2 separate regions of the Homo sapiens genome follow, and region 2 is linked to region 1. Evidence: fine-mapped expression QTL. A gene starts in region 1. The other region holds a variant in brackets. All regions are shown on one strand. Distances are from middle to middle. Region 1 holds the start of GTF2H5 (general transcription factor IIH subunit 5). Region 2 has its middle 35 kb from the start of GTF2H5.

Region 1 (2,918 bases):
TAAATGCAGAAATTAAGGCCATTTCTGACATCCCCCTGGCCAAAATAACCCCTCTAGTCACTCTTTATCACATCACCAAATGGTACTTATTCCTTAACTGATTTCAGAGTCTCTCTGCCCCCACCAAAATTAGTTACCTGTTCACCATTGTATCCCAAGCGTCTAGAATAATAGCTGACACACATCAAGTGCACAAAAATGGAACTGATGAGATCAAGGAAGAGAATGTATGCAAGATGAAAAAAAGCAAATAAAAGATACTTGGGAAGAAGAAGACTTGGAGGCAATTTTTTTATTTTAAAGAGAGTGCAACAATATGGAAATCACCAGTTGGAAAAGATTTGAGGGATAGAAAGAGGGAACTAAATGGAAGAGCTGGGTTCCTTAGCGATCACATGAACACACACGATGTTAAAAAAAAAAAAAAAAAAAAAAAGGCAGCATGAGGTCGGGCGCGGTGGCTCACACCTGTAATCGCAGCACTCTGGGAGGCCGAGGCGGGGGATCACCTGATGTCAGGAATTCCAGACCAGCCTGGCCAACATGGACAAACCCCGTGTCTACTAAAAATACGAAAATCAGCCGGGCGTGGTAGCGCACGCCTGTAATCCCAGTTACTAGGGAGAATGAGGCAGGATAATTGCTTGAACCCAGGAGACGGAGGTTGCAGTGAGCCCAGATCGCGCCACTGCACTCCAGCCTGGCAGACAGACCGAGACTCCATCTCAAAAAAAAAAAAAAAAAAGGCAGCATGAGCTTAATGCGGGAAGTACAATTTAACCTAAGGAACAGAAAACAAGAATCTCATATCTCAACTAGTAAAAATAATGACAGTGTTCCTTTAGACTTACAGAACAGACTTGGGGAAAGGGAGTAACTTTAGAACCTTCTGGGGTCTTTCACTTTAAAATGACCGTTGCCGAGTTTAGAGCTCTCTCAGCATTCAATCTATTCCATCTCTGGGGTTAGAGAGGGAGCAGGAAGCGGTGGTCTGCAAGGCTCAGAAGTGACTGGTGAGGCCCTTTCCTCCTCCTCCTCATCTCTCCGTGACTACCGAGCCCGGGAAGACGGACCGGCAGGTGCACTCCCCAAGGCCTCGACAGCAGCCAGAGAAAGGCAGCGACAGGGAAAGACGAGTCAGGCTCGCGACCACCAGAGAGAGAGGCCCTCACGCCCAGCCGAGCGTCAGCTGGTCGGTCCGGTCCGCGCGCCAGACGGCGGTGCTCGGCCGTGCCCGGTCCCTGCCCTCCCCATTCTCCGCTCCCCACCGCGCCCAGCTGCGCCGACGCCCCCGTCCGCCCCCACACCACCCCTGCCTTCACGTCCTACCTGCCGGCAGGCGGACTCAGCCCGTGCCCAACTGCTCGTCGGACCCCGTTGTCTGGGGAGCCCTACTCTTTCCGCGGCTCCCGGCCGGGACCCTCCACCCGGCGGCTGGCGGCTCGTGACCCCGCCCCCTCGGCCCGCTCTGGGCCCGCCTCCCGCCGGCTGGCTCCACCCACAATAGCGTCCCTAGCGCGATGGCGTATCGGCGCAGGCGCACTCTGCCGGCAACGCCGAGGCGCTTCTGCATCTGTGGGCCGAGGTGTGTGGCGAGCGTCCGAGCGGCTGGGGAAAGTGGGGTGTGGGAACACTGAGGGGTCCCAAAGAAAGGGGAGAGGAAGAGAAAAGCCCCAGAAGCCTGTCCACCGGGTGCTGGGGGCACAGGGCGGTGTCCCCCACTCTCTCCGGGCCCTTCCTGGCGGGGCCGCACGGCAGTCCCCCCCTCGTTTAATCGTGGGTTTCCTGTGGGGCTAGGGCTCGCCCTGCGCCCAGGTGTAAGTGGAAGTTAATTAAATGGGCGTACGCTGAGTGGTTTGTTTCCAGCCTAGGTCCGCACGGGACGTGATTTATTTAGTGAAGGGGCACAAGATCTGGAGATCTGGCTTGTACTTTTTTCCTTTGGCCAGGAACTACGGCTTAATCTCTTCCTTTGGTCTCCTCATATGTAAAATGAGGTGGCTGAGGCCGGGCGCGGTGGCTCACGCCTGCAATCCCAGCACATTGGGAGGCCGAGGCGGGCAAATCACTTGAGGCCAGGAGTTCGAGACCAGCCTGGCCAACATGGTGAAACCCCGTCTCCACTAAAAATACAATAAATTGGCCTGGCGCGGTGGCTCACACCTGTTGTCCCAGCACTTTGGGAGGCCGAGGTAGGTGGATCATTTGAGATCAGGAGTTCGAGACCAGCCTGGCCAACATGGTGAAACCCTGCCTCTACTAAAAATACAAAATTTGGCCTGGCGTGGTGGCGGGCGCCTGTAGTCCCCGCTGCTTGGGAGGCTGAGGCAGGAGAATCGCTTGAGCCCGGGAGGCAGAGGTTGCAGTGAGCCGACATCACGACACTGCGCTCCAGCCTGGGCGACAGAGTGAGACTCTGTCTCGAAGTGTATATATACATATATATATATTATATATGTATTTTATATATAATATATATTTATTTTATATATAATATATAATATGTATATTATGTATATTATATATAATACGTATATTATATATAATACATATATATAATATGTATATTATATATTATATATAATATTATATTGTATATTATATATTATATATAATATATTGTATATTATATATATTATATATTATATATATTATATTGTATATTATATATAATATATTGTATATTATATAATATATTGTATATTATATATAATATACAGTATATTATATATAATATACTGTATATTATATATAATATATTGTATATTATATATAATATATTGTATATTACATATATTGTATATTACATATAATATATTGTATATTACATATATTGTATATTACATATAATATATTGTATATTATATAATATATAATATATATTATATAATATATTGTATATTATATATTATATAATA
Region 2 (2,918 bases), 35 kb after region 1:
GGCTTCTTAGTCTATATCAGTGCTTTTCAACTTTAAAGTACTTACAAATCATCTGGAAGTCCTTAGAATGCAGATTCCGATTAAGTGGGTGTGGGCTGGGGCCTGAGATTCTGCATTTCTAGAAGGCTTCCAGGGGATGGCAGTGCTGCTGTCTGGCAGGTCACATTTTGAGTAGCTAAGCTCAAACACCCAAAGTGATGGTGTCATAGAGAAATAGAAGTTAAAGAAAAATGTTTAGGCCGGACGCAGTGGCTCAACCCTGTAATCCCAGCATTTTGGGAGGCCAAGGCAGGGGATCACCCGAGCTCAGGAGCTCAAGACCAGCCTGGGCAACATGGCGAAACCCCATCTCTACTAAAAATACAAAAAATTAGCCAGGCGTTGTGGTGCATGCTTGTAATCCCAGTTACTCAGGAGGCTGAGACAGGAGAATCACTTGAATCTGGGAGGCGGAGATTGCAGTGAGCCGAGATCATGCCACTGCACTCCAGCCTGGGTAACAGAGTGAGACTCTGTCTCCAAAAAACAAAAAAAAAGAAAAAGAAAAATGTTTAATGAGGCAGAGACCATGACCATATGGATAGATAATATTCTATATGTGTTATATGTATCCGTCTCCCAAAGTTTTAAGTGGAACAAAACTGACAGTAGATTCCCTTTAAAAGATAAAAGATTCATTATCATCAATATCTTTCTCCTCATGATGATTAAGTATTCGATTGTCAAGTTTCTTGAACTGATTGCTTTATGGCATATATACTGTCTCCTTCCCCAAACCCAAAACCGTTTTTTTGAAAGGGATAATAAGTATTGCATAAATACACCAATTGATCTATCAATTGATCATTTGATTGTTAGTTAAGAAGAAAAGATATACAATAAATTCTCTTGACAGGCTTGTTCCTGCAAGTGTCTAGAAATTATTAAAATCTTCAGGTCACAAAAACTTAAATTTAATCTCCAAATTTAATTTAATCCCAAGTACTTGGCAAAGTTAACTGTCCTTAATAACAAATATTCACACCAGATGTTTTAGAACCTTATACTTGATAAAATGTTCTAGGCCGGGCACGGTGGTTCACGCCTGTAATCCCAGCACTTTGGGAGGCTGAGGTGGGCAGATCACCTGAGGTCAGGAGTTCAAGACCAGCCTGGGCAACATGGCGAAACCCCATCTCCACTAAAAATACAAAAATTAGCCGGGCATGGTGGCAAGCACCTGTAATCCCAGCTACTTGGGAGGCTGAGGCAGGAGAATCGCTTAAACCAGGGAGGCAGACGTTGTGGTGAGCCGATACTGCACCACTGCACTTCAGCCTGGGTGACACAGTAAGACTCTGTCTCAGTAAATAAATAAATAAATAAATAAATAAATAAACATTCTAATACTTCACAAGTGGTAATGTTTTAGGAGATATACTCTCTCTGCTAAATTGATATTAATATATTGGGTTAAACTTCTGTATTGGAAATTCTAAAATGAACATAAAATATTGGCAGAAGCCAGAAAGGAACATTATTGATTGACAATTAAGCAGGCACAGCCGAAAATATTAATCAACACAGCAAGAAAGACAGGCATAGGATTTGAAACGTGATGACCTGAGCAGTTCACATTTTCTGAATCGTATCCTCAGGA[G/A]GAATTAATGCAGAGGGAGTAATCTGAGGAAGAGTAATGAGAAGGAAATACGACTGCTTTGTAGATTGTAATGATTTCTGTTTCCTTAAAACCCAGATTCAGTCCAATGGGGTACTTAACAGAGCTCCAAAGAAAAATAGAAGTTTATTCTGCTTGGTGATTCTTTTTCTGCCATCCCCAAATCATAGAGTATGTTATTTGCTCATGTGACACTTCCGTTTGGGAAGAACAAAAGCAGCTGAACACATTAACTCTTCAAACAAGTTTTTTAAAAATAATATTAGTTCTAACAGCTGATCTTGAGATCTACACATTGCCAGGTGGCCAAGCCCTGTGGAAGGGATTCCAAATGCACCAGAAGTTAGCCAGGTGAGGTGATGTTGAAATCATTTTGCCTTAAAGGAGGGGAGGGCCAGGTCTCTCTCTTGGGTCTCCAGGAGAACAGCTGTCCATAGGAAGCCTCAGCACTCCCAAAGCCCACAAACTCCATGGCCTCAAGTGATGATCAAAGGTCTTCCCCGTCCCCTCTGCATCTTCCTCTCTTCTTATGAAACCAAGAGCCTCAGAATCACCACAGTTGAGGCCTCTTCTTCCCTGGAAAGCCAAATTTTGGGCTGCCAGGCTAGAGTGTTCTAGAACGTCCCTCCGTGAGTCCACAATCCACTCGGAGGAGCAGTGACCCCGTGAAGGAAGTACCCTTTTCTTCCACTAACCAGGTTTCTCTGGGGAGTCCCCAACTTCTTTTCTGCCACTGCCAGAGGAGTCTGGAGGCTCCAGAGACCTGAGAAACCAAGAGGGTTTCCAGACCAGCAGCACTGGCCCCAACCTGGGAGCGCATTCCTAACTTAACTGAATCAGAATCTGCATCTTACCGGGTTTCCCAGAGGAGTCGGATGCACATTAAATCTGGCCATGAGGGAGCCACTGTGGGGCAAGGGGGAGGATTTGAAAGCTGACTCCAGGAACCACAGAAATGGCAAGTTAAGGCGTCAGATGAGGGTCTCCCCGGCACTCATTATCTAGCTGTCAATCCACCTAGCACCTCACAAACACTGACCTAAAACTCCTTTCTACTTCCACCCCCGTTCCGGGGAGAAACTTGGGGATTAAAGACAAGGTCTGGCATTAATGTGAAGAAGCTTTAGGATGCCAACCGGGGGCAAATGCGCCTTTAGCAAAATAAAGCCAGGCTCATTACTTCACAAGAAATAGGGCCAAAGTTACATTAGTAAAAGCAATATAAATTCCATGATGCCCCACCTTACCGAGGGGAAGCACC

The links.
Region 2: its variant is fine-mapped to the expression of GTF2H5 in whole blood (INTERVAL, PIP above 0.99).

Annotation. Positions count from the first base shown.
Region 1 is chr6:158,166,811-158,169,728 of GRCh38, forward strand. It overlaps GTF2H5 (general transcription factor IIH subunit 5), which reads left to right and starts at 1,540. Exons shown (of 3, transcript NM_207118.3): 1 at 1,540-1,585. It overlaps SERAC1 (serine active site containing 1), which reads right to left and starts at 1,452. Exons shown (of 17, transcript NM_032861.4): 1 at 1,330-1,452. RefSeq lists silencers at 1,250-1,319, 1,360-1,539.
Region 2 is chr6:158,202,274-158,205,191 of GRCh38, forward strand. No RefSeq gene overlaps it. Among named protein-coding and RNA genes, the nearest start is that of GTF2H5, 35 kb to the left of the region's middle. The variant G/A (reference allele first, on the strand shown) is at 1,640.